4 separate regions of the Homo sapiens genome follow, and regions 1, 2 and 4 are each linked to region 3. The links come from fine-mapping of genetic effects on gene expression. A gene starts in region 3. Each other region holds a variant in brackets. All regions are shown on one strand. Distances are from middle to middle. Region 1 overlaps LOC105370198 (a long non-coding RNA gene). Region 2 overlaps LOC105370198 (a long non-coding RNA gene). Region 3 holds the start of ITM2B (integral membrane protein 2B). Region 4 overlaps LOC105370198 (a long non-coding RNA gene).

What was found. PIP is the estimated chance that this variant, and not a neighbour inherited with it, causes the effect.
Region 1: its variant is the best candidate, but not a certain one, in a credible set for the expression of ITM2B in monocytes (TOPMed, PIP 0.61).
Region 2: its variant is the best candidate, but not a certain one, in a credible set for the expression of ITM2B in lung (TOPMed, PIP 0.56).
Region 4: its variant is the best candidate, but not a certain one, in a credible set for the expression of ITM2B in whole blood (TOPMed, PIP 0.86).

Annotation. Positions count from the first base shown.
Region 1 is chr13:48,163,683-48,169,944 of GRCh38, forward strand. It overlaps LOC105370198 (a long non-coding RNA gene), which reads right to left. Exons shown (of 6, transcript XR_007063792.1): 4 at 2,594-2,709. Among named protein-coding and RNA genes, the nearest start is that of ITM2B, 66 kb to the right of the region's middle. The variant C/G (reference allele first, on the strand shown) is at 2,382.
Region 2 is chr13:48,115,913-48,122,174 of GRCh38, forward strand. All of the region lies in intron 5 of LOC105370198 (a long non-coding RNA gene), which reads right to left. Among named protein-coding and RNA genes, the nearest start is that of MED4, 24 kb to the left of the region's middle. The variant G/A (reference allele first, on the strand shown) is at 3,320.
Region 3 is chr13:48,230,074-48,236,335 of GRCh38, forward strand. It overlaps ITM2B (integral membrane protein 2B), which reads left to right and starts at 3,133. Exons shown (of 6, transcript NM_021999.5): 1 at 3,133-3,404. The coding sequence starts at 3,288. RefSeq lists silencers at 3,009-3,368, 3,379-3,588 and enhancers at 3,644-4,341, 5,446-6,033.
Region 4 is chr13:48,156,137-48,162,398 of GRCh38, forward strand. The region is part of intron 4 of LOC105370198 (a long non-coding RNA gene); the gene reads right to left. Among named protein-coding and RNA genes, the nearest start is that of MED4, 64 kb to the left of the region's middle. RefSeq lists enhancers at 479-598, 3,569-4,179. The variant T/C (reference allele first, on the strand shown) is at 2,954.

The DNA of each region.
Region 1 (6,262 bases), 66 kb before region 3:
ATGTATATAACCCTGACCTGAAATTCTACTTGTAGGACTTTATCCTATAGATATACCCATATATATGAAAAAAGCAAGTACAGAGAAATTTATTTGCAACTGCTCTGTTGATTTGCAAATAGATTATTATGCAGAACTGTAGAAGAGACTAAGGAAGTTCTGCATGTACTGGTATAGAATGATCTTCAAGATGTTTTATTAAATGAAGAAAAGCAAGGAGAGAGCAATGCGTGTGTGTGTGCATGTATATGTGGGTAACACGTGTGCAAATGCATTTAGAAATATTCTAAATATTTATTATTGTATAACTTTCTGGAAGTATATTTTAAAAATCCATTCACTTATCTCTAGAAAAGGAAATTGGCCAGCTGGGGGACAGACGGGGAGACAGACCTTCTACTGTATATCTTTTTTGTATATACCTTCTGCATTTTGAACCATGTAAATGTATTACTTTCTCAAAAATAAATAAAATATTATTATTATTATTATTATTAATTTATTTATTTTGAGATGGGGTCTTGCTCTGTTGCTCAGGCTGGAGTGCAGTGGCAGGATCTCAGCTCACTGCAACCTCCACCTCCTGGGTTCAAGTGATTTTCCTGGCCTCAGCCTCCCTAGCAGCTGGGATTATAGGCATGCACCACCATGCCTGGCTAATTTTTGTATTTTTGTAGACATGAGGTTTCACCATGTTGGCCAGGCTGGTCTCAACCCCCTGACCTCAAGTGATCTGCCCACCTCGGCCTCCCAAAGTGCTGGGATTAGAAGTGTGAGCCACCACATCCAGCCTAAAAAGAAATATACTATTATAATGAAGAATAAATAAAGAAGCAGTAATACATGAGTTTGAGTGAACTTCAAAAAGGATGAAAAGGATAGTGGATTTTATGTTATGTAAATTTTACCTCAATTTAACAACAACAACAAAAAAAAGGAGCAGGATTGCAACAGGGAGCTAAAGGCAAAGCCTGTCCTTCCTCCAGTGCACCTGTCTTTTTGGCATGGCTCTACTAATGATGTGCTGATCAAGGTTGAACAAAAGATACCTCCCCACCACAATAAAAAGCACTGATTTGTATCATTTGCCAATTTGTATCAATTGTATCGGTTCCCACCAATGAACATGGAGTTGGGACAAAATGCATACAATTGGCTCTTGAGAGCCAGTGCAATTGAGACCCAGGACACCACTGGAATTTACCCAGTTACTGAAACCAGAACCCTGGGAAACATCCTTGATTCTTAAACCTTTCCTACCCCTCGCTACCCATGGTCTGCTCAATAGCCATTGCACTCCTCCCACATTGGGTAGAAGCCTTGTAGTTTAGGAATGGATCCTGTCCCCAGGTGGTCTAATCCAATATATATACTGCCACCCATTGATATGCAAAGACATTTATCCTTTGGGATAGCCAGCTGAATCCTGGGCCACCTGGAGGCCCAGGATGCTTGCTTTGAGTCATTCCAATCTGCTAGCTATGTAAGCATTATTATTTGTTGAAAAGATAGGGAGGCTCCGGACTAAGGGAATTATAGTCATCTATTCCTCTCACTGGTGACTGACTCAGGACCTCAGTACTAAGTCATTTAGTGCATGCTATTCCCTAGTCACAGAGATTAGCCCAAAAGTGGACTCATGACTCAGTTCAGGCCAATGAGATGTGACAAGAGTTTTGCTGGAGGCATCTGAAAAATTTCCTACTCTTCAGAGAGTTGCAGGAAGAGATAATTTCTCTCTTCCTTATACAGAAGATGAGGTCTGGAACTGCCACCACCATCTTGTCCGGCAGCCTGAGCACAAATCCCTCCCCCAGAGGTGGGAGGGCCAAGTGGACGGCCAGAGCCAGACACCCCAGCCTATGTTTGGACAACCCATGCTGTAGGCCAATACATTTCCTATGTTTAAGGTAGTTGGATTTAGATTATCTGTTTCTTGCTGTTGAATGCATCTTAAGCAACATAGTTTTGACCTGTTTGTGCTGGTTTATTTTATGTGTCAACATGGCTAGGCTACAGTACCCAGTTATTCAGTCAAACACTAACCTAGGAGTTACTAGTAAGGTTTGCAGGTGTGATAACATCTACTAAAAATGACTTGAAGTAGATTATCTTTGCTAATCTGGGTGGGCTTCATCCAATCAATTGAAAGTTCTTAAGAGAATAAACAAGTTTCCTTGAAGAAGAAAAAATTCCACCTGCAGACTGCAACATCAGCTCTTGCTCAAGAGTTTCCAGCCTGCTGGCCTGTCCTACAGTTTCAGACTTGCCTAGTCAGTCCCCACAATCACATAAGCCAACTCCTGTCACAAATCTCTTGCTCTCCTTCTGTCTGTGTATATATGTATATACGCATATATATATATATTTATATACTGGCA[C/G]TGTTTCTCTGGTCTAACCCTGATTAATGCACCTCTTTTTTCCTTTGTGATACTTATCTCAATTTGGGATTATATACTTTGCATTTATTATGTATATTCCAATATTCACAGTTAGACTATAGGCTTTATGGACATATGTGAGTAATTCCAGAAGTAGAATTTCTGGTCAATGATTATACACATTTGGAAGATGAAAAATATTGCTAACTTACCGTCTTCAGAGGTTGTACCAATTACACTCTTACTAGATCATAGCCTTCATGTCTTTTGTATTACTATGTGTTCCTGGCACATAGTAGGTGTTCAATAGATATAAACAGACGGAATTCTAGGAAAAGAAACACAAATTAAGGCAAAAAGACATAAAGGTATGCTACATTGGGAAGTTTTTTGTTTGACTAAATCACTTTTTCTTTTAGTTCCCCTTTCCTCTACAGGTGACTTGAAAATTTGGAATAATTCACAACCTGGTGCTTATTCAGCAGCAACAGCAGCAGCAGGCAGAACTCTGAGTTTGGGGTAAGCCCTCAGTTTGAACACAAACTCTGTGACATTCAAGCTGTCCAACCTTGGGCAGATCCTTAGCCTCTATCATCCTCAGCTTCCACATCTTTGTGGAAATGAAGCTGATGACCTTCCAGACTGGAGTGAAGATCAGGAGATAAAGCACCTGGTCCATTATGCACTGTGGACATGGGGATTATAATAAGGTCTTCCCTGCAAATTTGGGAACAGAAAGCAACAATGTGCTCTAAAAACAATGGAAATTGAGCACATAAAGCACCTGAGCAGAGACATAAGGTGACCATGAAGAGACCAGCAGGATATCAACCAAGCTGAAGTTGGTAAAACACCTAAAGGAGGATATGACAACTAGAAGGGGATTGTCAGACACAAAGCCTAGAAAAAGCAGAGTTAGAGACAAAGTGAGGCTGTGCCTCTGAAGGCATGTCCCATCAGGCCCCAAAATTCAGCCCAAAAGGTCATTCCAATCATGAGAACACATCCATCTGGCTGCCTGAACTTAATACTGTTCTACTTTTGAATTACATAAACAGCCCTTTTTGTTCAGATTCCACATTGACCAAAACCTTTCTGATAGTTTGGGGTCCTATTTGGCCTGTCCACAGGGAATTTTCTCCGGTCAGGCTCACCTGGCCAGCCAGCTCTCCTGACCCGGCATCCCACTCAAACACCTGTGTTCTCTTTTATTTTAGAGGTTAGGCAGGACAATCTGACCCAGATGGGGGAGGAAATTGCAATCATGTTTTTGTCTAATTCACAGCTCTAATTAGGGGATAAGAGAAAAATAGAGCATGAGAAGAAATGGTCCAAGAGCTGGAAAATTTGTAAAAGCACCCACATCCCTATGGGGAAGGCACCCTTGTGAACTTTGCCTCTACAGCTAAGCTGACCTCATATCAACTCTGCAAGGAAGACAGGGCAAGCACTTCACATTGTATTTATTTATTTACTTATACCCAGCTTATTCCTTAAAGGACTTAAGGCAAGCAGGCTTTAAGGGCCATCTTCCCTGACTAGTGATAAAACTAAGTGATAAAAATAAGTTTGTCCAGAATCACATACTTTTTATATAAAAGTCCAGAGACCAAACCATGACTTTCTTAGTCTAGGTCAAAGCTCTTGCCAAGGAACCAAACTGAAGATGAGAAAAGAGTGCATTTGTTCTAAACAGAATGCTGAATTCAGAAGACTTAAGGATGGCTTTAGATTAGGACTGAAGTTTGTAATCTGTGATTCAGTTTTTGTGCTTTTGTAATTTCCTTATTCCAGTCTTTTGAATTCTTTTAGATTTTTTATTTATTGTAAAATAGAAGACGTTTGATTCCAGCCATAACAGCGTAGCTTATATTGAGCTAACCCTCCCGTTGAAAACAACTGTACCAGATGGACTAAGTACATAGCACAACATTTGAAAGCATTGGAGGGCAACCAAGACAGATGATCCCTAAGAGAAGGGAGGCACATCAAAGTGATCTCTATACTCACCCTGGCCCAACTCACAGGTCAGGGAATAAAGTAAGTGGCAGTTCCATTAGGCTGAAGAGACGGATTAGAGTTTAAAGCTGCTCAAGTGGCTGCGACTTGATGGTAAAATCTCAAGGAGGAGAGAGTTGCAGAGAAATAAACCCAAAAGGCTACATGCAATCTCCCCTTGAGATGTCTGCAAACTCCTAAGCTGAGCAAGCACAAGCAGAGACTGCAGGAGAACCAAAAGAAAAGCAGCAGCTAGGAGGCTGGAGAGCTGGGCAAAGATTTTTGCAGCAGCATGGTACTGAGAAGATAGAAAAACAAAGCCCACCAAGGTGAATAGGTAAAAACTATTGGTTGAAACCCCGAGAAAGACCTGTGAATAGTCACTGCACTCCAGGCTGGGCAACAGAGTGAGACCCCCTCTTAAAGCTGATAACCAATAAGTTAAAACAAGAGAGGAAAAAAAGGAATAATAAAAGTACTTGATTCTCTCCCCTCAAAAAGCAAGAAAGGAGAAATAAAGAACAGAAATAGAAACAAGTTAACAAGGTAATAGAGTTAAACATAAATATTTCAATAATTACATTAAATGTTAATGGATTAGTACCCCAATTAGAAGATCAGAATTACTTTAAGACAAAAAAGAAAAATACGTATTCTGTTTACAAGAGACTCAATTTAGGCTGGGCGCAGTGGCTCATGCCTGAAATCCCAGCACTTTAGGAGACCAAGGAGGGTGGTTTACTTGAGGCCAGAAGTTCAAGATCAGCCTGGCCAACATGGCAAAACCCTGTCTCTACCAAAAATATAAAAATTAGCCAGGCATGGTGGTGCATGTCTGTAATTCCAGCTACTCAGGAAGCTGAGGCAGGAGAATCGCTTGAGTCAGGAGGCAGAGATTGTAGTGAGCCAAGATCACGCCACTGCACTCCAGTCTGGGTGACAGATGAGACTGTCTCAAAAAAAAAAAAAAAAAAAGAGAGAGAGAGAGACTCAATTTAAATAGAAGACACAAAGTTTAAAGAAAAAGAATGGAGACATGGAGACTGGGCACAGTGGCTCACTTCTATAATTCCAGTACTCCTGTACTTTGGGAGGACGAGGCGGGTGGATCACTTGAGGCTAGGAGTTCAAGACCAACCTGGCCAACATGGCAAAACCCCATCTCTACTAAAAAAAATACAATAATTAGCTGGGTGTGGTGGCATAAGCCTATAGTCCCAGCTACTCTGGAAGCTGAGGCAGGAGAATCACTTGAACCTGGGAGGTGGAAGTTGCAGTGACCAGAGATCATGCCACTGTGCTCCAGCCTGGGCAACAGAGCAAGACTCAGTATCAAAAAAATAAAAATAAATAAAAATTAGCTGGGCATGGTGGGCACAGGCCTGTAGTACTAGCTACTCCAGAGGCTGAGGTGGAAGGATCACTCTTGAGCCCAAGAGTCCGATGCTGCAGTGAGCCATGATCATGCCACTGTACTCCAGCCTGGGCAAGAGAGAGAGACAAACCCTGTCTCAGAAAAAAAAAAAAGAATAGGAGAAACAAAATGCCATGCCATGCCAACAGTAACAAAAAAAAAAGCTGGTAGAGCTGTATTAATATCAGACAGCACAGACTTTAGAGCAAGAAATATCTCTAAAGAAGGATGTCTCATAATGATAAAAAGATCAATTAACCGTCCTAAATTTAAATATACCTAAGAATTTATAATTTATAAATCTTTTAAAAAATGTTACCCAGCATGGTTTCAATACATATTAAGCAAAGTTGGCAGAACTAAAAGGAGAAATAGACAAATCCACCATCATTATTAGAGATTGTTTCAATAGCTGATAGAACAAGCAGACAAAAAAATCAGTAAGGATATATAAGATTTGAATAACAGA
Region 2 (6,262 bases), 110 kb before region 3:
CAGATGCTGATTGTATTAGTTTTCTATCCAAGAAGCTTTTTCAGCTTGAAAAAGATGGATGTTGAATGTTGGAGCCATTACTGGGTCAGGCCAACAATGGCGAAGACACTCAAGAGTGTTTGTTGTAAATATCAGGGTGTCTTGCACAGGGGAAGAATTGACTAAATTGGGGATCCAAGAATGAAAAGACTTTTAATTTAATGATTTTCTTTTTTTTTTTTTTTGAGACAGAGTTTCACTCTTGTCGCCCAGGCTGGAGTGCAATGGCACAATCTCTGCTCACTGCAACCTCCGCCTCCTGGGTTCAAGCGATTCTCCTGCCTCAGCCTCCCGCGTAGCCAGGATCACAGGCACCTGCCACCATGCCCGGCTAATTTTTTGTATTTTTAGTAGAGACGGGGTTTCACCACGTTGGCCAGGCTGGTCTCAAACTTTTGACCTCAGGTGATCTGCCTGCCTTGGCCTCCCAAAGTGCTGGGATTACAGGCATAAGCCACTGCGCCTGGCCCAATGACCTGTTTTTGAAATAGTAGGATGAAGGGCAAAATGTTGACCTGGGGAAAATAGAGCAAGTGTCAGTCAAAATTATTCTGGGAAGTCTGCAGAGGTTGCCATGAAGCAGCAGGGGTGATCCAAGTTAAGACTCATCAGAAACATGAATGTCCCACTGGGTCTAGAATATCAAGAAAGAACTCCAAGATAGTTTGCTTCATCAACATGTTCAGAGTTGAGGTGCGTGACAAAATAATTGTTTTTCTGAAGCACTTTTAACTGTGAACATTACAACATACCCACTGAACACTGGAAAGTTAATTTGTAGTTTGAAGAATTGACCAGATAAGGACCCTGATACTTCGGATATTAACATTTGCCAGTGCTCTAAGTAGTTCATTTTAAAAAGGAAAGGAAGAAAAGCTGACTTAAGCTACAAAACATGTTTTCTCCCAGTATCACTGATATATTACCTTTGCTTCTGAAGTGGGTTGGTTCATTAGCAAAGGGTGCAGCATTTTCCACTTCCCTTTTACAAACTGAACTTTAGCGCAGACCCTGAAGAGTCTATGGAGGTTGGTCAGTAATCACAATGGAATAGGATATGCCTTACCCTCAAAGAGAGACGTGGAAGGTCAAGGTCATTTGCAGGTGCCTCCCTCAGTGCTCGGAAATGGTATACATTTCTTATAACAATATGTGATACTGTAATTACCTACTTATTTTTCAGTCTTTTCCAATAGACTATAAGCTCTTCAAGTGCAGAGACTGTGTATTATTAATCACTGTAAGTCCAAATGCTTAAAAAGCCACTAACAGGAAGGGCTCAGTAAATGCTTTATACAAAGTGAGTGGATCAATGTACAGAGGGATTGATGGATGAATGGATGGATGGTTGGATGGATGGATGGTTGAATGAATGGATGAATGGATAAATGGTTGGTTGGTTGGATGGATGGATAGATGGATGACTCCTGGATTCCTGCCATTAAAGAAAAACCATCACAACAATAAAGAAAATGGTGCTCAAGTGAAGGGTGGACAAGATAGATGAGATTGACTTGGGCCCAGAAGAGTCACTAAAAGGGCATATAATCCTAGAATCATTGGGAAGAAGGAAACTTGGATCAATTTTTGCCACTGCTTCTTCTAATCCATCCTCCCAAGAGTCTGGTCTGTACCTCCAGTAGAGAAAACTGCTACTGGGTAAACAAGGTTATCTTTGTGGGACTGAAGAACAAGTAAGAGCTCCAAGACTTACTGAGAAGGACAGAAGGCCTGTCTACCTTATTCCTGTCCATGGAGTAGAAACCCTGAGAGGCAAGGGCTCCATGTGCCTGAGGGAGACAGAGTTATGGGTTTCTTGGGCCACTGAACAGTCGTCATGACTATAGTCCCAGAATAACTACTTCCCATAAGGGATGGACTATGGGGGAGTGAGGAATGAAGGACCTTTGGGAGTGCAGTCAGCAAGAGCTTGTTTGCAGACCTCAGTGAGCTCCAGGGGACTGCATTTGGTAGCTAGAGATTTGGTAGGGTCAGCAGCAATAAGGCACCAGCAATATAAACTCTTTTGCTCCCAGGAAATCTCAAGCTAGAGACTGATATGATTGAATAATAAGAGAACAGCAATCCATCAACCTCTCCGAGACACACAGAAACTGCCCCTAGTGAAGGTTTCTGCAAACCTGTAGGCAATGAGGTGAGGGCAACCTCCAGGGATAGCTCATTGGTCTCCCAAGCAGCCAGGAGCTGAAAAACTGGCGAGGGGTGGGTGGTGCCAGGGGAGAGTTGAGGGACCGCACTTCCCCTCCCTGAGCAATGCTGACCCAAGGGCCTTTGGGAGGAGGTTGTGCCACAGGACCGGTCATCAGAGAAGGAAGTCATTGCCATTCTACTAGCAAGTGAAGCTTGGGAATATAGGCAGGCTTTCAACTAGCTGCATGGAAAACAGCCCCAGGGTTCATCTGCAGGGTGCCCCCCTCCCCAGTACATGATTAACGTGGACACCTAAAAATCCAAGCTTATAATTTATACATTTGTCAAGGTGGGGTATGTTGGAGAAGGCGGGCCAAGCTTACTGTATAAAAGGAATGCTTCATTTCGTAGAATGTTATTCCCCTGCAGTTGCCTCTCACAGGTAGCAGAGCGTGGTGTTTAAAAGCATGGGTTTTGGAGCCAAATGCCAGGGTTACAATCATGACTAAATTCCTTCTGTTCTGAGACCTTGAGCAAGTTTCCTCACCTCTCTAAGTCTCTGCTTCCTCATCTGTGAAAGAAGATAATTAGAGCACCCACCTCATAGAATTGTTAAGAGGACTAATTCAATCAATCCAATTAAGTGCTGATATATAAGAACTCAATAAATACAGCATACATACAAAATAAGATTTGAGTTATTAAATTTGAATCATACATGTGGCCAAGCATTCACAAATTTCCTATGTAATTGCGAGTGGAGTAGTAGTTTGTCACGAGGTGGTGATTGGTGCAGAGGAACTGGGACACCAACCAAAAATATACATTGTGATACATTTTTTTCCCCTAAGATACTCAAGGATTTCTTGTTTTTGTTTTTTGTTTTTTGTTTTTTGTTTTTGAGACAGGGTCTTGTTCTTGTCACCCAGGCTGGAGTGCAATGGCACGATCTCAGCTCACTGCCACCTCCACCTGCTGGGTTCAAGCAATTCTACTGCCTCAGCCTCCTGAGTAGCTGGGACTACAGGAGCCCGCCACCACGCCTGGCTAATTTTTGTGTTTTTACTAAAGATGGGGTTTCGCCATGTTTTCCAGGCTGGTCTTGAACTGCTGACCTCGTGATCTGCCC[G/A]TCTCAGCCTCCCAAAGTGCTGAGATTACAGATGTGAGCCACCACACCCAGTCTGTTTTTGGTTTTTGTTTTGAGACAGAGTCTCACTGTCACCCAGACTGGAGAGCAGTGGTATGATCTCAGCTTACTGCAACCTCTGCCTCCGAGGTTCAAGCAATTCTCCTGCCTCAGCCTCCCAAGTAGCTGGGATTACAGGTGCGTGCCACCATGTCCAGCTAAGTTTTGTATTTTTAATAGAGACAGGGGTTTGCCATGTTGGCCAGGCTGGTCTCGAACTCCTGACCTCAAGTGATCTGCCCGCCTCGGCCTCCCAAAGTGCTGGGATTACAGGTGTGAGCCACCGTGCCCGGCCAGATATTCAAAGATTTCTTGTCAAACCCCTGAAGTTTTTATGGAACACAGTTTGGAAACCACTCCATTACTGGGCCAAAAAACAAAGCTATATATCCTATGGTGATTATAGTGAGGTTGAGTCCTTTACATCTGGCCCACTCATGCTAAAATAACCACTGGCAACTTATAAAGCTGGCTCCACTGAGAGAATTCCTTCTAACATCTTGGTGACTAGGCAAACAGACATGATCCTGGTCTTTTTTGAAGGGTATATGATTGACACTGCCAAGGAAAACAGTTAACAGGAGACACTAACTTAGAAGAAATAAAACCTGTTATTTTGGAGGGTACTATGAGTAAACAAAGGAGCGTTAAAACATATAATATAATCTTGGTGAGGTAATGAATAAAAATTTATTTATTAAAATATAACATTTCTTCATATAAAAATGTAAATAATGGGGCTTTAATAAAGAACATTTAAAAAGAGTAATGAGCTAGTCAGAAAACAAAGACTAAGAGGTCAACAACCACCTCAAGCTTTCCCCAAGCTATAAGAAAAACTGCCTGGTGTTTCTGATGAACCAAGTTATTTATGACATTTAAAACGGTGATATGAGCTATGATCTCTATTTCTGTTAAAAAAATAAAGAAATAAAAAGTCTTTAAAAGGTAGATTGTCATTCATGGATGACTGGAAGTTACATCTGAGAATCGCTGCCTTTTAAGCCTTATAGTTTAAAAATATTACCTCTGGGTGGTACAGTTTAGGAACAGGCCCTGGGAGAAAGTAATCTCAGGCCTTTGAATTCTTTCTATCCTATCTACCCTCCCACATAGCTCACTTAGGGTTGAGAGTTGAGTTTCATGTATTTAATTACATGCACCTGGAGGCAGGACACAATGACCCACGCTATGATCAAATGGTAATGCTACAAGAGTCACTCATTAAAAAGGCTAAGCATATGTGAGTTTAGCTTTTTCCAAGTAAAGACTAATAAAGTGAATATTTTATATATTTAATCACACGCTATTATGACACTGATAGGCAAAGAGACATAATTGGTAAGCAATTACATATGTAGCTGGTGTTACTTTCATACATGAAAATTATACTTTTACTGCTCCGATCTTCTCACTTTTGGTCCACACGACAGTATCATAAAAAAGCAAGGTTGCAGTGAGGACAACCTAGGTCAAAAGTTGCCAGGAGGGCAGAGGATTCATGAAAATAGACCCCATGCTTCTGTTGATTGGAGGGAGGTCTTGGTTGAGAGTGAGAGGAAAAAAGACCAGATGCTAAGAGTGAGTAAAAGGAACATTGTTCCTGTTGAGCCAGGAAGGAACAGGATAGGAATCGAGAAGGGCAATTTTAAAAAGGCAGGGGATGGGCAGTTCTTGTCAGGTGGGTAGACCTGTGCTTTTGCAGAAGAGGAACCTTAAGCAGGTTTCTTTCGAATACCTTCAAGGGTAACTGAATTTTTTGTTGCTTTCGTCTCCCACTTTCCCTCATCCCCTCAAAACATTTGTGGTACCTGAAATTCCTTAAACAGGGAATAAAGTTTTTCATTACGCAATTAGAAACAAAGATTGACCACAAGCAAATCAGCTGGCAGAGGTGACATGAAACTTTGCTCACTAAATGTTAATGGCTGATAGTGGATCATTGGCTATTTTGATAGGAAGAGGAAGTAAGAGAATGGGAGGCCCTGGGATGAGGTGGTTTTCCAGAGAAGGAAAGGAAGCATATTAAATGATAAGAAAAGAAACAGCTCACGGTTATTGAGTATTTATGTGCCAGGCTCTGTTCCAAGTGCTTTACGTGAATTAACTCTTTCAATTTCGCAGCACCCTGCCTGAGGTAGGTACTATTACTAATCTCATTTTACAGATAAGGAAACAAAGTCATGGAGAGGTTTGGTAACTTGCCCAAGGACATAGCAGAATGGCCAAGAGTTGATTTCTGGCATTTCTAGCCCAAGAGTCCACACTTTTGGCCACAGAGTGAAAGAAAATTGTCTCAGAGAAAAAATGACCCAGGAGACAAACTTCCCTACATAGACAATGTCGCCAAAAGTCAGCCTGTTCACTTCTGAGTATTAGGGATAAGGAGAAGAGGTGTTTTATGGTGCACAGCATTGAGTATCTGCTACTTAAAGGAACATTGGTGCTGGAATGGTTACTATGCTCAGTCTTATGGACCCTTTTGATACATTCTTGGTCTTACATGTGCACCGCTCAACTGCCTGAATTAGTGATCCTGTGGCAGTTGTTTAAACCCTCTGCACCTCTGAGTCCACATTTGGAAACTGGGTTATTTCCACTTGTCAGCTCCCTGACTCAGAGGAATGCAGGGAGGGCTAATGGGCTGATCTATGCTAAGTGCTCTGGGCCATAAACCAGGACTAACTGAACTTTCAGAGAACACTATGACTTGGCAGTGCTACTTAAATTGACAGAAGTGGTAGAATATTCTCCTAGCAGCTTCTTTACATGTCTTGGTTCAGCTGCCTAATCGCCCTTTAGGACAACAGCAGTCGGTCCACTGCGGCTGAATTCCTTGCTAGACTTACACTGTGTTGCTCCAACAGAGGACGACTGTCTGGTAGA
Region 3 (6,262 bases):
GAGACGGGGTTTCACCGTGTTAGCCAGGATGGTCTCGATCTCCTGACCTCGTCATCCGCCCGCCTCGGCCTCCTAAAGTGCTGGGATTGCAGGCGTGAGCCACCGCGCCCGGTCAATTTTTTGCATTTTTAGTAGAGTCGGGGTTTCTCCATTTTGGTCAGGCTGGTCTGGAACACCCGACCTCAGGTGATCTCCCTGCCTCGGCCTCCCAAAGTGCTGGGATTACAGGCATGAGCCACCTCACCCAGCTTCTCCCTCTCTTTCATCAGTGCAGAGCATATCCAGTCTTTTCACAAAGCAAAACAAAAATCCCAAGTGCCACAGCCAGTCAAATCAAAAGAGATCTGCATTTGTTATTAGGATAATTCCTAAAGGGTCTCGGGATATTATAGAGCCCAAGATTTGAAAAAGAAAAAAAAATGCATCTGCTAGTTCAAGGAAAATAATGATAAATTATTTTAAAATTACATGAAAATAATTTATATAAAATAAATTAAAATAATTGAAAAGCATATATAATATTGAAATAGGAAGTCGGTAAGAAAAATAAACAGTGCTTAAGTCTCTGAAGAGGTCAGTCAAAGCCTTCAAAGCTCTCACCTAGAAGAAACACTTCTTTTATGAAAGTTCAGACAAAGCCACAAGATGACCAGCTAAACTCACACATTGGGTTAAGAGAAGAGGCAACAGGAGCACATTTCAAAGGGCTTATTCAGTGACGTTGTTTCACCAAGGACCCTATACTTGTGAAAAATAAAATAAAATAAAGTTTTCCAATCATTCTGTAAAACCACAAGAAATTTCTCTGAATAAGGAATTGTTTCCTTGAGAAAGAACAGACAGAATAGAGATGTAAAGAACCTAAAAAGAAAAAAAAAATCCCTGTTGAAGCACATAATGCAAATCTATTAAAATATTTTAGAATTCAGTTCCCCACTTCCATTTTTTCCTCCCTCCTTTGGTAAGCATAAAAACAAACATGGTTGCTGGTGATATGCAGAGCTGGAATCAGATTCATCTTGCTCTCTCAAACTCAACGTCAAAAAGGAAAACAAAGGTCCTCTAAGACTCCCTTTACATTTGGTAGTTAATAGTAACTTATAACTATGTTTTTAACTTTCTTTTGTTGAGTCATGGACTCTCCTCCTCCCTGGCTCCTAAGTTTTCAGGGTCAACGGGCAACCTTTTCTAAATCACAAGACTGGATTTGCTATGTTTGGTCTTGCTCCAGCGTCTTTATTATCCCTGCTGTTGTGCACTACACAGTTCTGTAGACACATGAGATAAAATGGAGAAAAAAAACCAGGAGATTATTCCCAGACCGGTTGCCAACTGATTTTAAACTGTTGCTCACTGCAAGTACACAAAATAATGAATGGTCTTTTATTCATGAGTCTTTCAAAATAGAAATCCTGGGGCGGGGAGGATTTCTAGTTTTGTCAACCTCATTTGTTCATCCTTTGCCTCAGCTTCCTAGTCTGTTCAGTAGTGTTGTTCACGAAGAATTTTGTTTTATTTTCTTCTGTAATTCCTTTTTTCCCCCCGGAGTATAATGACAGCCAGATTCTTCTCTATCATCTACTGCAAAATGCCTTGAGTATTTTTCTACCATCTTATTTTAACACAGAACGAAGTAGGAAGGATGTACATATAATTATTTATAATCCTCCAGATCTTGCTTCCAGAAATACTTAGTCTTCAACTGTAATGTCTCAGGGAACCTATTAAACTAGGGAGCTGGAAGCAGTCGTTGACTTTGAGGAATTAGATAACATTAGATACTATGAAAGTCCAGTCCATAGAGTCAACCTCACAGAGCCGATGCCTGCACAAGGGCGACCCAGGAGTTTAAATAAGTTGCTGCAAGTATGGTTAGCTACTGTTAAAACTCACCAGAACTGGAACCTAACTCATCCTCCTCTTGGTTGAGCAGATTTCATTTTGACAGGAATTTCTGAATACCCAAAGCAAACTCAAAGTCTGGCCTGGGTTTCTATCTCAGCCCAGGATGCTTCTGAAATACATGAACAGAAGGATTTGGAGATCTTGGGCTGTTTCCCTGGGACTTATGATCTGACATTCTATGGAAATACCCAACTCCCTCCTTGAGCAGGGCCAAATCCCCAAAGATCTCAGACTGAACCCACTTTTTTCAGGGTTGGCCCAAGGCAGAGCTGACACAGCTGTAACATTCTAGAGCACACCCACAACTCTGGATGAACCAGGACAGAATGGGGTGGAAGGATACAAGATAACACATTTGTCCAAGGGGGCCGTCTGTTGACACAGTAATGAACGCAGTAACGACGGGAGCCAGTATTCTACCTCGCATTAGTTGTAAATGAAACGTCTTCAAAACATGAGAATTTTGCGTTATCCTTAATTATTTTTTCATTTTGCAGAAAAATAAAGGGACTCGTCATCGAGTACTTTGAGTCACAAATCAGCCAAGTGTGCATGTGGTTTTTTTCCAAGTACGCACAAGAGTGGAACATTTCGTTTTACGAGTGTGAGATGTTTGAAATACAAATCTGCCAAGAGCTTCCTCCACATTGGTCTGGGACTAGGCAGAACAGGCCCTGACCTCCTGAGAGAGGGAAGGAAGACCAGGCAGGTCTGAGCCAGGTAAACGCCCTTGGGTGAGGTCCGTGAAAGATAAAGTCAGATCTCAAGGACAGAGAGCTTTAAACATGTTTGTGCTCCACTGAGTCGGTTACCTAATAAGTGAGAAAATGAAGATGTGGATGCACAAAAATTCCATGGCCTTTAGGCTCGCGGTGGGGACAGGGTACAGGGAAGCGGCGGTCTGGTGCTGCCAAAGGTTAGTCCCTTGTACCCGGCGAACTCAGGAAAGTTCACTCGATTTCGCTACAAACCTGCAGCACTCGGCCTGGAGGTAACCTGGTTGGGAGCGAATTCAGAACTGGAAATTCCAGGCGGCCCAGAGGGACACCCATCCCTCTCCGAGGCGCGCCGGGATCCGGCGCCCAGCTGCGGGGCGAGGGCAGGGTCCCGCGCAGCACCCCACCCCCGGCCGCTGGCCCCGCCCCCGCCCCCGCCCCGCCTCCCAGGGGATGTGCGAGCAGTCTCCGCCCTCGCGCGGGAGCTGGGAGGCTGCGAGATCCCTACCGCAGTAGCCGCCTCTGCCGCCGCGGAGCTTCCCGAACCTCTTCAGCCGCCCGGAGCCGCTCCCGGAGCCCGGCCGTAGAGGCTGCAATCGCAGCCGGGAGCCCGCAGCCCGCGCCCCGAGCCCGCCGCCGCCCTTCGAGGGCGCCCCAGGCCGCGCCATGGTGAAGGTGACGTTCAACTCCGCTCTGGCCCAGAAGGAGGCCAAGAAGGACGAGCCCAAGAGCGGCGAGGAGGCGCTCATCATCCCCCCCGACGCCGTCGCGGTGGACTGCAAGGTCCGAGCCCGGGGAGGTCGAGGAAGCGGGTGCTGGGCCCGGCCGGGGAGGGCTGCGCGGACTGCAGCGGCAGTGCGCCCCGAGGTGGCGGGCGCGGGGCTCGCGCCGCGGGGACAAGTCCCCGAGAGAGCCCGGCGCTCCCGTTTCCTGTGGGTCCGCAGCTCCTTTGTAAGGAAGTGCGTGTGCTGGAAGCGGTGCCTGACGCGGGGTCGGGGGCTTGGGAGGCCTGGAGAGGGAACGATTGGCTAATTGTGCCGAATTCCCGGTCGTTTGTGCAGTCCGGGGAGCGTGCGTGCAGCCAGGACTTGGCTTGTTCGATCTGGGGACCGGCAGCGACAGGCACAACAACAACAACCGAGTTTGGCACTTCCTTCCCAGTATAAATAATGTACCTAAAATGGCTGACATCATTACAAGCCTAAACCTCTGTTGTTTCCCACTTTCGTTTCTAGGCTTGAACAGCACTTGGACTAAGTCCAGCAACTGTAAGCGTCTTAATTTTAAAAGCGTTTCTTTACCTCCTTTTTCCACGGCCCTTCGGTAGTGGCAGGTGAACTTCACCTGGAGAGGGGACGAAGGGACAGTCCGCCCGAAGTAGGTTTGGGCTGTCTCTTACCATTACTAGTAAAGGCCAGTAATGACTATGTGGATGTTAGTGAAAAACCAATTGTTGGCATTTAAATTGTATCAGCGTCTTTGTGAGGACTCCTGCTGCGTGAAACTAAACATGAGAAATTTGCCCCCGGGTCCCTAATAAAATTCTCCTTTATTTTACAAAATCTCCCTTTAATCCTAGGAAAATTCATGAAGTGGGGCTGTTACTGTGTTGACTTTTAGTAGGTTACGATCATATTTACTTAAATATGAGTGTAATTGTCTCATAAGTTAAAAAAGCCCACAGCCTCTTACCCAGACCCTTTTTAGGCTGCAAAAATTAGAAATTAACTGTAAAGTTATGTTGCTTATCTTATTTTTTGTTGTTGTTAGCATTTTTCAAGACCTATTATCAGTAGGGTAAATTTAGTTTTAACTTAAAAAAATTGGTGTGCCACGTATGAATAATGGGAGTTTTTATATGGACGAATGAAAATTATTGCTGAAAAACAGGCCACTAATATACTGTAAAAAATTCACAATATAATGGTAATCTAGACATCATATTATAATTTATTATATTCTGAATATAATCTATCTTCAGAATATAATGGTAATCTTACTTTCTGGAAATGTTCTGATAAAAACAGACACGTCAGAGGTTGATTTCTAAATGACTTGCCTTGCCTTGAAATAGGAACAGTGAACTGATTCCCTAAAAGGATTAAAGGTTTTGGTTTTCGTATTGGTATTGTTTTCCTGAAGCCATTGCAAACAATCTTGGTCTTTAAAGAAAATGTTTGGAATGCACAGATGAAAATTGCAGTAGCAAATTATTATGTTAGCTCTTTGTTTATCTAACATTCGTTGTACCTAAAATAGATTGAGAGTCAAGTATCCAGTCACAACAGTCTCAAATATATGTAGTCTTAATGCTATCACATATATATATATACACACATACATTTAAAAATCCTATTAACAAATATAACTGCTCCCATTTAGAAAGGAGAGAGTGAGCGAGCATTGGATGATGTCACTTCAGACAGCTTTTCTCTGTTCCGCTGTAGTGGAGATTTGAAACTCTGGACAAACATCAGAATTACATTTGCTGAGCACCATTAAATCTGACTTCTGACAATTTTTGTCATTTCTGAAATAGTGACTCTGCCAGATTCTCAAAATTGCTCACGAGTTCACCATATTTAAATTTTGTGGTCATTGCAGCTATAAGTAATCATTGGTAGCTCCGTGCTTTGTTTTCCATTTTTTATTTTCTCAGATCCTCCATATCCAAAGAAAAATACTACTGGGACTAAAGAGTGAGGGCCAGAGTCGTCTTTGTAAACCACCCAGCAGTCACGGATGAGTTGGTAGATAAAAAATGACTAATTCTTTTTCCAGCTATAAGCTGAAAGACTTCTTTAGGGGATGACAAAATATTTCTCTACATTAAAAGTAGAATCCTTATAATCAGTCAGTCGCTTAACGGGAAAAGGAAAACCTTAATGACAGACTTTTGTGAAAGAAGTTCTGATCTCTTCATTTCAGAGCTTGGGCAGTGATTACATAATGTTCTCTGGCTCCTTGCGGGTGGCTCTGTGGCAGCCACCTTGTCTGACTGCCTGGACTGGGAACAGAATCAGCCTTAATGTGTTTTGCCGAGGGCATTTCCTTTGCCTGGTTGGTTGAAAGAATCAAACCAAGCTAGTTAATGGCCTAGAACTCCTGAACAAGAATTTTTCTTATCTTTAACCCTCCCAGATCACAATATCCCGCAGACCATTGTTTTCCAAAATGTGCTCTTAGGGACCACCTGCTCTGGTTTTAAAATGCAGATTCTGTTACCTTATGCCACAAGAATTCTGATCACTCTAATCAGCTGGCTTATATAACATGCATTCCAGTACTTTTACATTGCTCCTGTCTTTCTATTTTTTTCTTCTGCAGGGTGAGAACTCTCCAGAAACAGTTCTATTACCCCATTTTTCAGTCTTATCTTTTCAGCAGCTATTAATCCTAACAGCCATTTCTATTGATAGTTTTATCTCAACTAGCTTGCTGTTTATTCTTTTCCTGCATTTTCCCCTTAATTGTTTTCACCTTCCTCCTCTCCTAGTAGGCATAAAGCTCTTAGAGCTATAGAGACAGCAAAGATGGGATGTATTTTGGGTAGCAGAAGTGAATTTGAAATTATATACATGTTTTATGCTATAGGCAACAATTCATATATTTTTGTGGCAATACTTTGAACCTTGGGAAAT
Region 4 (6,262 bases), 74 kb before region 3:
TGTTACCTCAGCCCAGAGAAGAGTTTTCAATTCAGTTGCACACGAGTTATCCCACTTATAATGAATCTTCTGAAGCCATTAGTTGTTTCCTAATTTTTTGATTGTACATCCTTATAAGAAAAACATTTCAGCATACCCTCAAATATGTAAATGTATTTATTTGCAGGTTATACATGTCATATCAATATCAGTACAATACTAACATCCAAATAAGTAGAGATTTTTTTAGAGGATGCAATAGAAAATAAAATTAGAAGTTCTAATATTTTCCTTGAGTACCTCAGTGGATCATCTTAAACACCATGGAATTTTCCACCACGATGAATATCCAAACACTTAGACAAGGTTTTTGAAAGACTCCTACTCAGACCCTACCGAGGCATTCTGAATCAGAACTTCTGAGGGTAAGGCCCTAATGAGACAGCCAAACGCCAAGGCAGATAAAAAGGGGTCCCCGGAGAATCTCTAACCCTCCCCACAGGTGTTTACATCAGATGTTTTTGTGCAGACGAAGGAACTTGCCCAGGGCCTTGTCTGAGCATGCCCACATGAGCCCTGGGGGAGCAGGGTGGAGTCACAGGCAGGGGGAGGAGCCCTGGGATTCAATCTGTGAAGTGGGGAGCCTGTTTTCGCTTTGCTGAGGTTTTTTTTCATTTTTCCCTTTTCACCCAATAAAATCCTGCTCTATTCACCCTTCAATGTGTCCACGTGCCTAATTTTCTTGGTCATGTGACAAGAACCTGGTTTTAGCTAAACCAGGAGCAAAATTCTAAAACACTAGCAAGGACATTTTGAAAAAGTTTCCCTGCTGATTCCCATGTGCACCTTTGGTTTAAAAATACAATTCTAAAGATACAAGAATTAGAACCCCTAAAGGCCAGGTGCAGTGGTTCACGCCTGTAATCCCAGCACTTTGGGAAGCCGAGGCGGGCGGATCATGAGGTCAGGAGTTCGAGACCATCCTGACCAACATGGTGAAGCTCCGTCTTTACTAAAATACAAAAATTAGCCCAGTGTGGTGGCGGGTGCCTGTAATCCCAGCTACTCGGGAGGCTGAGGCAGGGGAATTGCTTGAACCCGGGAGGCAGAGGTTGCAGTGAGCCAAGATCGCGCCACTGTACTTCAGCCTGGGCGACAGAGCCAGACTCCATCTCAAAAAAAAAAAAAAATTAGAATCCCTAAAACACTGAACATAGTAGTCAAATGGCTACTGAATGCAAAGATCAGTCAATTAACTCTGGGAAATGTATAGTTCAACAGATTATCTGGATCATCATGTGCCTCAAAAAACATTGTGCTCTCCTCCCAACTCCATATTTTTCTTCCTCTGACTCTGTCCTTTCCTTTCTATTTTATTAATTTATTATTATTATTATTTTTTGAGATGGAGAGCTCTCTAAGTTGCGCAGGCTGCTCTCAAATGATCCTCCTGCCTCAGCCTCCCAAGGTGCTGGGATCACAAGTATAAGCCAACATGCCTGGCCTCCCCTCACTTTTAATATAACTTGAACTTTACTATTATATGCATAGATATTCATTATAGAAAATATAGATAAGCAAAAAAGAAGAAAATAAAAATGAATTCATAATTCTACCATTCCAAAATAATGAAAATGTTTACTCATAGCTTTCAATATATTTATGCAAACATGTATTTAAAAGGGAATCGGCCGGGGGCAGTGACTCACGTGTGTAATACCAGCACTTTGGGAGGCCGAGGTGGGCAGATCACCTGAGATCAGGAGTTTGAGACCAGCCTGGCCGACATGGTGAAACCCCGTCTCTACTAAAAATACAAAAATTAGCAGGGCATGGTGGCAGATGCCGGTAATCCCAGGTACTCCAGAGGCTGAGGCAGGAGAATTGCTTGAACCCAGGAGGAGGAGGTTACAGTGAGCCGAGATCGTGCCATTGCACTCCAGCCTGGGAGACAAGAGTGAAACTCCATCTCAAAATATATATATAAATAAATAAATATAAAAGGGAATCATACTGTACATGCCATTTTTAACCTGACTTTCTTCACTGTGTAATTATGTATTTTTTTCCGAGAAAATAAGAATGAAAGCTCTGACAGAGCCAGGAACAGTGGCAAGAGAGCTGATCGGCAAAGAGCAGGTGGTGAGATCAGAAACTCCCCCACTAACCTGCTGAACTGCCATCCTCTCCCTCATATTCTCTTCCCTCTACCTTCTGATCCTCCCTGACTTCATCTCTCTTCCTCTGTTTGCCTTCTACATGCTCTTTCCCTTTCTCTTTTCTTTCACCTTCTACCCTCAATTCTCTCTACTAAAGCAACCAAGGCCTTCAGGACAAGGATTAATATTTAATAGAATTAAACTTCCTGTTAATTTGACAAGGGATGCATAACCAGGAAGCTGGAGTGACAGCTGCACCCTCCTCTGAAGTGGGGATTTTCTGAGCAAGCCCAAGCAAGAGCCCTCTGTTCTTCTACTTTTTTTTTTTTTTTTGAGACAGAGTTTCGTTCTTGTTGCCCAGGCTGGAGTGCAATGGCATGATCTTGGCTCACTTCTCCTGCCTCAGCCTCCCAAGTAGCTGGGATTACAGGCATGTGCCACCATGCCCGGCTAATTTTGTATTTTTAGTAGAGACGGGGTTTCACCATGTTAGTCAGGCTTGTCTCCAACTCCTGATCTCAGGTGATCCACCTGCCATGGCCTCCCAAAGTGGGATTACAGGCATGAGCCACCACACCCAGCCTGAGCCCTCTGTTCTTGATAACTATCTGTTATTTCCACTCGGGAGCCCAAATTAAAGTTCCTTATTTGTCTTAGAAGCAAGGTGCGGCCAGAGGCAGCGGGGTACCCAGGTTGTCAGAGAAGAGCCATGTCAGGAAGATTGCATTTCTGGAATTGAAACCAAGGGAGAGATGGTTGACAGAAGGTGAGGACTGAGAAGGAGGCAGGCATGAAAATCCAGAACAAACCAGCTG[T/C]GGAGCTTTCCCACTGGTGTTACAAAACCGGTCACAGAAAACCAGTTCCTCTTGCTTTAGGTGGCAAGAATCTTCTACATGCTGGTTACCTCAACCCCACTGACAAAGACATTTCCACCTGCAATTATTAATCCACTGCTAGTGAGGAAAGTTTTCTGAACTTTGAAAACTTCATTGGGCTGGTGTGAAAGAAAGTAAGCACTTTCTACTACAGTGAAGCCAAATTGTGTTTTTCAGAGGCTGTGGAAAATTATTATTTTCATTAAATGCAAATCATTGCCCTCAAACCAATGACGTTCTTAGGCATGAAATTGTCATTGGCTTTATTAACTAGGAGAGGCTACATTACCCAACTCTCTAAAGGCACTCTGCTGTAGAAGGTTCTAGAAAATGAATGGAAAGTGACTCATTCTCCACCTTCATCCCCAAAACCAAAACTCCCCCTGCAGCAAAACACCCCCTGCAGCAGCAGGAGTTTATGGATCATCCTCAGAGTGGGGGTGTAGCACATGGGCCACTAGATGCTTCAGGGGGCAGCAATTAAGTGCTTCACCAGGGGCATTAGTCACAGTGGGTGGGACCCTCCCTGTCACCCTGCAGAAATGGGAGCCAGAGAAGCTGGTAATAACTGAAGAGAGGGAGGCCCCATCCCCTACAACCTCTCCCTTTTCCCAGCAGCAAGTACTGAATAAGCAGCACTTAGCATATGTACAAGGTCAGAAAGGAGGTGAAAAATAGGGAGAAGGTGTTTTGACATAAATATTTCCAGAAAGGATCTCTTAAGGGAGAGCATCTCTGGCTTATGGCAGAGTTAAAACTTAAAAAAGAAAAAAAAATTATTCGAAAAAAACTAGAAAAAGTTTTCCTCCTCCTCACCCCGAGAAACAAATCTCTACTTGTAGTGGCGCCTGAAGTTTAACCATTAGTGACTCATTCCTTTGTGAACTGCAGGAGACTTGGCATTTAAGAGGTCTGTATTGAAATGCAAATATTTATGAGACCTGCCAATAATTTTCACTAGTATCAGAATCCTTGAGATGACCTTCAAATACAGATTCCTGGTGGCATAGACATGCATAGTTTGTACCCCTAGTCCTCACTACAACCATGACCTTCAGGCAATAGATGGGTTCTCCAGTTCTCTGGCTTCTGATGGGACCCTGATGTAGTTAACTTAAGTTCTTGCTTTTCCAGGTTAGAAAATGATTTCCACTGTGGCGACAGTTTGGCTACCTCAATCAGAACTGACCCTTTATAGTTAAAGATGGAAGCAAAATGGAAAACTGTAAATAGTTGGGCTTTTTAAATTTTGGCATGTCAAAAGGGAGGGCGGCTATACAGGAGTAAACACTGTCACCTTCCTCCACTGAATCCATGGCCCCTTCCTATATCTTGTCTCGTTCTTTTCTCCTTGGTTTCTCTACAATTACATTCTCTTTCTCCTTTTTCTCCTACCCCTCAAGACACAGACATACTAGGAATGCAATCATATTTGTCTTATATGTACTTAATAATTTAGTACTTTCTTTACACAACATGGTGAGAAATAAAATTCTAAGCCCCCAACTGACTGAATGGACCCTCTCTTGGCCAAAGGAGCCCCAAAGAAACCTTGGAAGCTGAATTCATGGCCACAGTCTGACACCTCCTCCCTCGATAAAAGTCATTAGGTTTCCTTCTCGAAGGTCTAAACAGAAACCAGCCCTTTCAACAGACTACTAGCTTGTCTTCCCAGACACAGTACAAAGACAAGATGAGGTTAATGGTTCCTTCATCACTCCCCAAGACCTCTGCTTCCTCTATTCCCTTTTTCTTCAATGCTGGCCTTACCTTGTGTAAAATGTAGATTTTGGGGGCACTAGTTAAGTCTCACAAATACATTCTCATTGGTCTCACTGTCACCCCTCCTCCACCCCTTTTAAAGGAAAATGAATAAATACTAAACCTCCTGAGAATCTCTTTGGAAAAAACAGCCACAGATGCTTCTGTGACTCATGTTTTTTTCCCGGGCACGCCCTCACACTGGCTCAAAACCTGGATGATTTGAATCTTATGCTTCAATCACTCATTTTGGTTTTCAATAGGTTTAATATTTTACTTGAGAATAGAGTCGTGTCAGTGAGCTGGACTTTTTTACTCAATGGGCTTAGCAGCCATGACAGGGGAAAAAGGGTCTTCCCTCTGTTTCATGATGTTAAGAGTGAAGGGATCATTGATCAGGTGCTGAGAGCCACAGGGCCACCTAAAGAGTGTCAGAGGATAATAAGGGTGAGTTGGGGGTTTGAAAAAACAAGACCAAGGACAAGATCCCCCTCCTTCTCAAACTGGCAAAGAACAAGTTAAAATCAGCCCTGACCAGTGAGCCCTGGTTAACAGTCCACCCTGGGGCAGCAGCAAAGACCCCACAGGTTGCTCTCTGCTCATGCCCTCTGTAAGATTTCCTCAGGTGGGGAGGGCACATGGGGCCCAGGGTTATTCTGTAGAGTTGGGACAACCATAATGTACCTCTTCTGCCTGTTGGCCTCCTTTTCCCCACTTCAATACATACAGGTGAAATCAAATGAAAATTAACACCAAGGACCCCACAAAGGGTAAAGAAGCCACTACAAGCCAAGAAAGCAGAGTGTGTGGACAAAAGAAGGGGGGAAGTAAGTCACTCCAGATTCTCTGGGTTGCTAGGTGTAGTTTGGAAGACAAAGTTACTGATATTTTCAAGCTTCAGCTGGCCAAGCCCTCTTCTCCTCTAGGTGGGATGCCTCCATGAGCTCCAACAGGCAGCCTCGCCGACCTCCCAGCTCTGCTCAGTTGCTCAGCACCCCATGGAGAAGGTGAAGCCCATAATGAACACACTGCCCTGGCCACTTACTTCCTCCAACCAAAGAAGCCCTCATCTCCCGGGCCTAGACCATTTCCGGAGACCAGCTTGTGACAGAGCCACAACCTCCGGTCACTCTGTCAGCTATCTGCAGTTCCTCCTTTTTCCTTTCCTCTCTCCCCTCATAAACAATGACTGTTGATGTTTCCACTAGCTACAGATGCTGATGCCAAGATTAGCTTTGGTCAAGATGATATTCTCCATCCTCCAAAACAATGACCAAAATGTTTTATTTTATGGCTAGGAACTTTACTTTCTTTCATATGAAATATTTAATGTATTTTTCACTGTGCTCATTTTTGTTTTGTGTGGTGATAGTTAATAGCAAAACTTATGCTACCCCATCAAGAAATAAACAAGGAACTTCTTGATAACAGGAGGAACTAACCATGCAACTGAAAGCAGAGGCGCAAAAAAGAGCTTTTTCTATATTT